Homo sapiens: one gene and its partner. The protein of the gene in region 2 purifies or fractionates together with the protein of the main gene of each other region. This does not show direct contact. Each region holds a gene or a part of one and is shown on either strand. Other genes may lie near its edges.

The links. The genes of interacting proteins can lie anywhere in the genome.
Region 1: the proteins of TIGD4 (region 2) and KIFBP purify together in Homo sapiens (affinity purification with mass spectrometry; 3 studies listed by BioGRID and IntAct, with this or other methods). This does not show direct contact.

Annotation. Positions count from the first base shown.
Region 1 is NC_000010.11:68,995,303-68,998,802, forward strand, and holds part of KIFBP (KIF-binding protein), read left to right. Parts: intron 1-3,500. UniProt on the Homo sapiens protein: Activator of KIF1B plus-end-directed microtubule motor activity. Required for organization of axonal microtubules, and axonal outgrowth and maintenance during peripheral and central nervous system development.
Region 2 is NC_000004.12:152,772,104-152,777,459, reverse strand, and holds part of TIGD4 (tigger transposable element-derived protein 4), read left to right. Parts: intron 1-5,356.

The DNA.
Region 1 (3,500 bases), on a different chromosome or scaffold from region 2:
TGTAGAATTTTATATAAATGAAATCATATTGTATATACTCTTGTTTTGGTATACCTTTTTTCCACTCAACATCGTTATTTCATTCTGTATCTACTGAGCTGATCGTGTCTTTTCATTTTCAGTCTGTTAATAGGGTGGATTACATTGATTTTTGTAAATGTTAAACTAATCTTGCATTCCTGGGATAAACTCCATTTGGTCGTAGCGTATTCTTTTTATATATTGTTGAACTGAATTCACTAAATTTTTGTTTAAAATCTTTGCATCTGTGTTCATGAAGGATTTCAGTCTGTAGTTTTCTTGTTATATCTTTGTTTAATATGAGATGGGAAGTGTACTGTCCTTTTCTCTTTTCTGGAAGTGTTTGTGTAGTGTTGGTGTTAAACTTCATTACATGTTTGGCAGAATTTACCAGTAATACTTTTTTAGCTGTTTTTATTTTATATTTTACTTTTCTCCTTACCTAGTTTGATAGTGGCAAGGATATGATATGTGAAAGATGCAAGACCTTCCATTGTAGCTTTTCTACCCTTAGTAGGATTTATATTGTATTTAAAGAATAATTCACATAAAGGCTGGGCACGGTACCTCATGGCTGTAATCCCAGCACTTTGGGAGGCCAAGGCGGGTGGATCACTTGAGGTCAGGAGTTTGAGATCAGCCTGGCCAACATGATGAAACCCCATCTCTACTAAAAATACAAAAATTAGCCAGGTGTGGTGGCAGGTGCCTGTAATCCCAATTGCTCAGGAGGCTGAGGCACAAGAATCGCTAGAACCCGGGAGGCGGAGGTTGCAGTGAGCCAAGATCATGTCACAGCACTCCAGACTGGGCAACAGAGCAAGACTCTATCTCAAAAAAAAAAAATGGTAATAATAATTCAAATAAAATGTCAATAGTGATTATCTCTGTGGAGTCAAGCTTTAAAAAAAAAATCCAAAACACCAAACCTAATTTAATTTTAAAAATAAAGGTGGGCCGGGTGTGGTGGCTGACGCCTGTAATCCCAGCATTTTGGGAGGCTGAGGTGGGTGGATCACCTAAGGTCAGGAGTTCAAGACAAGCCTGGCCAACATGGCAAAACCCCGTCTCTACTAAAAATACAAAAATTAGCTGGGCGTGATGTTGGGCGCTTGCAATCCCAGCTACTCTGGAAGCTGAGGCAGGAGAATAGCTTGAACCTGGGAGGTAGAGGTTGCAGTGAGTTGAGATTGTGCCACTGCACTCCAGCCTGGGCGACAAGAGGGAAACTCTCAAAAAAATAAATAGGCTGGGCATGGTGGCTAACACCTGTAATCCCAGCACTTTGGGAGGCTGAGGTAGGTGGATTGCCTGAGGTCAGCAGTTCGAGACCAGCCTGGCCAACATGGTGAAACCCCGTCTCTATTAAAAATACAAAAATTAGCCGGGCATGGTGGCGCATGTCTGTAATCCCAGTTACCCAGGAGGCTGAGGCAGGAGAATCGCTTGAACCCAGGAGGTGGAGGTTGCAGTGAGCCAAGATCGTGCCACTGCACTCCAGCCTGGGCAACAGAGTGAGAGACTGTCTCAAAAAATAAAATAAAATAAAAAATATTTTGGCCAGGCGCAGTGGCTCATGCCTGTAATCCCAAGACTTTGGGAGGCTGAGACTTGAGTCCAGGAGTTTGAGACCAGCCTGGACAACATAGTGAGACTTTGTCTCTATTTGAAGAAAAATAAAATAAAAGTGATTTGATCATTCCACTGGAACATAGCACTTTGGTCTTCCGGCTTTACAAAATATATCCATTGTATATATATTTTTTTAAGTGACTTGATCAGTCCTCAGTATCCAGGACTATAGGTCATACTGATAATGTTTTGAGATTGGATAGTTCTCTCCTCTATGTTACTTATGAGGTCCTTTCCAGGACCTCATTAAACTACATAAGTAATAGAGGCTTGACATAATAGAGGACCTTATTAAACCTCATAAGTAATAGAGACTTGAAGGGTGATATGGTTTGGCTCTGTGTCCCCACCCAAATCTCATGTTGAATTGTGATCTTCAGTCTTGGAGGAGAAGCCTGGTGGGAGGTGACTGGATCATGGGGGTGGATTTCGTCTTGCTGTTCTCATGAGATCTGGTTGTTTGAAAGTGTATAGCACTTCCTTCTTTGCTCTCTCCCCTTCCTACTCCAGCCATGTAGAATGTTTGGGCTTCCCCTTCACCTTTTGCCGTGATTGTAAGTTTCCCGAGGCCTCCCCAGCCATACCTCCTGTACAGCCTGTGGAACTGTGACCCAATTAAACCTCTTTTCTTTATAAAGTATCTAGTCTCAGGTAGTTCTTTATAGCAATATGAGAATGAACTAATAGAAAGGGCTCTGCCTTCCTAATAACTTACTGATTGTAATTTCCTGATCTTAGACCTACAGGCCACCTTTTCCTTACTCTTTAGTTCAACTTATTTCTCCTTTGATGATAGACAGTGCTTGGGAAACTCCTTTGACCATGACACCAGTAAGCCCCACTGCAGCACACTGCAACTAACCTAGGTAGTCTAGAGACTCACCTAGTACCAGAAACTGGTTAGTCACACTCTATTTTTGGGACAGGGTTGTGTTTGGCCTGCTATATTCAGGGTAGACTGTGCCACAGAAAGCAACAATTCTTGGTATGTGACAAATCTGAAACCATGAAACCATGATTGTAAGTTTCCCGAGGCCTCCCCAGCCATACCTCCTGTACAGCCTGTGGAACTGTGAGCCAATTAAACTTCTTTTCTTTATAAAGTATCTAGTCTCAGGTAGTTCTTTATAGCAATATGAGAATGGACTAATACAAAGGGCTCTGCCTTCCTAATAACTTACTGATTGGTCATGTTACATGTTAGTCAGGCTGGTCTTGAACTCCTGACCCCGTGACCTGCCCGCTTCAGCCTCCCAAAGTGCTGGGATTACAGGCGTGAGCCATTGCACCCAGCCCAAAAGATTTTTAAAACAAAATGTGTGATATAGTAATATATATGCTTCTTTATTAACACATTATATAATGTGTCTAATATCTATGATGATTGTAAAGTAATGATGAGCATAAATGATATTTTGAGATATCTGCAAACTAGCATAATAGAAAGGTTTTTTTTTTTCATTTCTATTGTTCACAAAGTCCCAGGTCCTATAATACTGCTACAATTTATTTCCTGTGTTCATAATGAAAAGAAATGCTGTATTTTAATAGGAGATTGGTGAAAAGAAATTTGTATTTTTTTCCCTGTCCAAATTCATGGACTCTGAATTCTCTTTATGGATGCCTTGGGGATCCTTAGACTTGAGGTTAAGAATTTCTGCATTAAAAACTTCCTTCCCTAGTGGCAAAAGATGGTAGAAGGCCAGCCTCAGAAGTATCCTTGTGCCTGAAGGACTGACTATTCCAAGGGAAGTGAGGTAGACTAACCCCACTACATACATACATACATACATACATATATGTATATATATATATATTTTTTTTTTTTTTTTTTTTTTGAGACAGAG
Region 2 (5,356 bases):
TTAGAATAGAAGATTACTACTTTTCTCTGAATTGTCATTTATTTTTAGAGAGGTAAGAAAAAAGGGAATAGCTGCCTTCCATATATACTTATGACATGGAGATTATCTACTCATTTAACTTTGCACTGCTATTGGCTGTTTATTTGGCTTTTGAAAAATCAGGTGCTATTTATTCATTGGGCTTGTGGGGAACTCTAGTAGCCCTGAATGGCATTTGTGGCATACTCAATGAAGTCTAATTCTTTATCCTGGCATTAAAGGCTTACCAAGATCTGGCCTCAATCTTGCAAATGAGCACTCTCTTATATACCTGAAGGAAAAGTGCTAATTTAGCCAACTAATAGAGATAGGTATAAATACCAATATAGACATAGATATGAAACTTTAGTTGCAAAGAAATGTTTAATATGCTTCAAAGTGCATATTTCCCTCTTCCATGCTTTATTGTCTATTCTTATCAGCAGAAATGTTTTCCTATTTTTCCTTACCTGTGATGTACCTATCCATCCTTTACAGTTGAGTTCAGATGCTACTTCTGTCATGAACCCATTATTTATCCTCCCTGTGAGAATTCATTTTTCCCTGTTTTTGGATCTTACAGCCTTTGATTTGAGCCCCCATTTCAGTCTGCTTTATACTACTGTCTTGCATGTTTTCCCATGATAAATAAGATGGTTTTTGGGAAACTGAACTTTGGACTTACTTGATTCTCTTATAACACCAGGAAATTGGCCAATTCTAGTTGAGTTATGGAAATATGTTGTCTGCTGCATACCAGGCAAGTTCAAGAATACCAGCAACTCCTGCTACTTAGGGTAATGGTACAAGTAGGATTAAGTGGATATAGTTGCTATCTATCTGTAGAAGACAATGAGTGAGTGCTGTCTTAAGTTTGGAAAGTAGTTGATTCTCTGCAGAGGGGTATAAACTACTGATGAAAGGAGAGTGACTCATTACTCCTAGAGATTCTGAATGGGAAGAATGCCAGCTTTATGTTTTCTGATACTGATTTTTTTTTTAATAACTTGGTGCAAAAGTAGAACATTATTCTAAGATGACTGTTGTGGAAGAAAAAAAAGGTAGAACATTAGAGTTGTAAAAATGTTTTTAACTATAAAGAGGAAAAAACTGAACTTATTTATAATTCATTTACCTAGAGAGAACATTCAACATTTTGGTCAATGTATTTTTTTTCTTTATATCTATGTAGATATATATTTCTTCATTTATTTAACAAATTGCTACTGACACCCTATGGTTTGCTGGAAGTGAGCTGTGTAGGAATAACCATGAGCCTCTGCTCTGATGTAATTTTTAGTGTATGTTGTATTTGTTGACATATAATTTTATATTTTGCTTTTTTCACTTAATGTATCATGGAATTTTTTCATATCATTAAATATTCTCTTTGTGTGGCACAATAGTATTTCAGCATGTAGATATTTTGTAATTTATTGAATGAATCCTTTTTGTTGCATATTTTCAATTTTGTCTGTAATTATATAGCAATGCAGGGAATAGTCCCGTGTAGCAGGTGGAATTCTAAGATGAACTCCAGTGACACTTACCTTGTATAATTCCCTCTCCCTGTGAACATGATGGGATATTACTTCCATGATTATGTTATGTTACTTGCAAGGGAATTTTGGAGATATAATTAAGGTTGCTAATCAATTGACTCTGAATTAATCAAAAGGGCAATATTCTAGGTAGACCTAACCTAATCAAGTGAGCACTTTAAGAACAGAGAGTTTTCTCCTGCTTGTGGCAGTAGAGGAAGTCAGAGAGATTCAAAGTGTGAAAGAGACTCTACAGGAGGAATGTTCTCCATTGCTGAAATGACAATTTCCCACAGACAAGGACCTGAGGGAAGCCTCTAGAAGCTGAGAGTAGTCCCTGCCAACAGCCAACCAAAAAAACTAGGGACCATAGTCCTACAACAGCAAGGAACTGAATTCTGCAAACAATCTGATTGCGCCTGGAAGCAAATTCTTCCCCAGAGCCTCCAGATAAGAGCCCAGCTTCTGACCAACATCTTGATTTCTACCTTGTGAGACCCTAAACAGAGGACCCAGTTGAGCCCACCTGGACTTAAGATCTACAGAACTGTGAGATAATAAATGGGTGTTGTTTTAAGGCATTGAGTTTGTGGTAATTTGTTGCATTAGCAGTAGAAAACTAATACATTTGTAAGAAATTATTTTTACATCTATAATTATTCTTTTGGGATAAAATCCTTGATATAGGCCGGGCATGGTGGCTCACACCTGTAATCCCAGCACTTTGGGAGGCCAAGGTGAACGGATCACGAAGTCAGAAGATGGAGACCATCCTGACTAACACGGTGAATCCCCGTCTCTACTAAAAATACAAAAAATTAGCCAGACGTGGTGGCACATGCCTGTAGTCACAGCTACTTGGGAGGCTGAGGCAGGAGAATTGCTTGAACCCAGGAGGCAGATGTTGCAGTTAGCTGAGATTGCACCACTGCACTCTAGCCTGGGTGACAAAGCGATACTCCCTCTTAAAAAAAAAAAAAAAATCCTTGATATAGACTTGCTAGATAAAACGTTATACACAGTTTTAAGGTTTGTATATCATATTGCAAATTTGCCCTCCATAAGCGTATTGTAACAATTTATGTGCCTCCTAACAACCTGTTACCTCACCCCAGCAAACGCTAGATACTGACATTCTGATAGGCAAAAACAAAAATGTTTTTTTTAAAAGAAGATTATGTTTTTCTTATTAATAGTAGGATTGACCATTGTTTTCTTTATTTGAAATTAATTTGGTGAGTCTTTTTTGATGATTTGCATATTCTTATTTTCTGATTAGCTTAACCATTGACATAGAGAAAATATTCCCTAACATGTAGAATAGCATTTCTCTGCTGTAATATTTTCAAGAGGGAGAATGATTAATGAGCTTGAAAGGATGACTATTCTGAGAAATATTAGCTGCTGCCATTACTCCTTGCAAAAGAATATCCCAGATGTTATACTGTTGGAGTTTGGAGAATGTCAGCTTCATTGATCAGGTAGTATTGATGCCTTATTCTTTTCTAGGGAAAAAGTCTAATTTGTCTGTTTGGCATTAGAAATGTGATTATTTTTAGGAATAAAGATGTATCTTATCATGGAAAATTGTAGCTTTGACTAATGTTAACTCAGGGGAAAAACCTAATCTTCCTAAATAAAGTTATCACATTTTCAATTTTCTCAAGATAATGAGCAATCTCTGATAGTATATATTATGTCACTTTAACCAGGATGGGAAAAGAAGAAATTCAAGTTACTTTTTCTATAATCCTTGCTGTTTGACATGATAGATTTTATTTCTGATAAATGAGATAAGGCAGGAGGGAGAGAGGAAGGAAGGGAGGGAGGAAGAGAGGGAGGGATTGGGAGAGGGAGGAAGGAAGGGAAGGAAGGAAAGAAAAAAGGGAAGGAAAGAAAAGAGGAAGGAAAGAAGGAAGGACGAAGTTGAGAGATTCTCATAGTAAATTTGGTTGGTTTTGTCTTTGAAAAATTAGTTTTTGCTATGTCAATTTCTGAAGGTTGGTATCTTCCTAATAAGAGCAAGAATTTTATTTTTATTTTGAAATAATTGCATATTTATAGGAAATTGTAGGAAAATATAAGAAGAGATCCCATATACAAGCAAGATTTTTTTAATGTTAGTTGTATGGTCAAATCTTATTACTTAGGTTTGCCCTCGCTGACAGATAGAGTTGCTATTTGTGTTCACAGAATTCATAATGGCCTATTCTTCCATGGAGGCCTAATGTTGCTTTTTTTTTTTTTTTTTTTTTTTTAAGGCATTGGAAATGCTGGCTTAGGTTGGTGCTGGGAGCATAGAATCCGTAACTATGGTCACAGGAGGTCCCACCAGTGTGATTCAAAGATACTGTAATATAGTTGTAAAGAATGCTGACTTGACATTTAGAAGCCTGGATTCTGGACTGCTCTTAACCACATTGTAACTGTGGGACCAATGAAATCCAGTTTTACCTTCCTCCTTAGTTATTTGGAATACAGGTAGTAAAACCATTTAAAAACTAAAACCCTGGGCTATCATTATTTTTAAGACTTTTTTCGAAATGACACTTTTTTAAAAAAAGAATTCCTTTACTGGTTGTAATTCCTATGATAAAAATTCCTCCTTTGAGTTGGACAACAAGGGCAGAAGAATTTTGGCAAAAGTTTTGTCAAAAGATTTTGTGCAAAAAGTTGTGCATCACCTGGGAAACCAGGAAGCCCAGCAAGAAGAATGGAGTGCCCACACTCACACAGAAGTAACACTGCTCATCAAATTAGCTTGTTATTATCTTGGCTGCCCCACAGATTCTGATAAGGGAGGTGCTGACTTGGGAAAGTAGAGGTGAGCCTATCTGGGGCCATGTGACTGTTCTCATGGCTTAAGAAAAGCCCTACTTTAGGCCGGGCACAGTGGCTCACGCCTGTAATCCTAGCACTTTGGGAGGCTGGAGGCAGCCGAGGCGGGCAGATCATGAGGTCAAGAGATTGAGACCATCCTGGCCAACATGTTGAAATCCCGTCTCTACTAAAAATACAAAAATTAGCTGGACGTGGTGGCGTGTGCCTGTAGTCCCAGCTACTTGGGAGGCTGAGGCAGGAGAATCGCATGAACCTGGGAGGCAGAGGTTGCAGTGAGCCGAGATTGTGCCACTGTATACCAGCCTGGGCGACAGAGTGAGACTCCATCTCAAAAGAAAAAAAAAAAAGAAAAGCCCTACTTTGAGTATAGATTTAAGGTGGGATTCTTGCTTCTGTTTGCAAGTAGGATTTTATAGTTTTCCAAATTGTAGATTCACACAGCCAAAAGACATGAGAGAGATAATGATGATGAGATCATCACCACCTATTTGTTGAGCACTTTCTTAAAGTACTAAATACTGTGCTACGTGCTTTACACTCTTTCATTGAATCTTTTTGAATGCACAATAATGAGATAGGTGCTGTAGTTACTCCCATTTTACAGATAAGGAAGCTGAAGCTTCATATGGTTAAGTAAATTACCTGGGATCACATGAGTACTAAATAGCAGAGTCACTTCTCAATTCAGAACTGCCTGGCACCTTTTTTTTTTTACAGATAGAAAGTAGAAGACCTGAGACGTTAAGACTTGTGGTCACTATCCTTCCTGTTCTTAGTCTACATCTTTTTCTGCATTATACTCTCCTAATTGTTTGTTTCTATGCCTTTTGTCCAGTATTTCTGGCCTCTGTACCTTCAGCTAATGTGTCAAATTAATACAAAAGTTACTGAGTTCTTAGCCTACTAACAGGATAAGGGTTAAAAAAGAAAAAAGAGAGAAAAATTTTAAATCATAA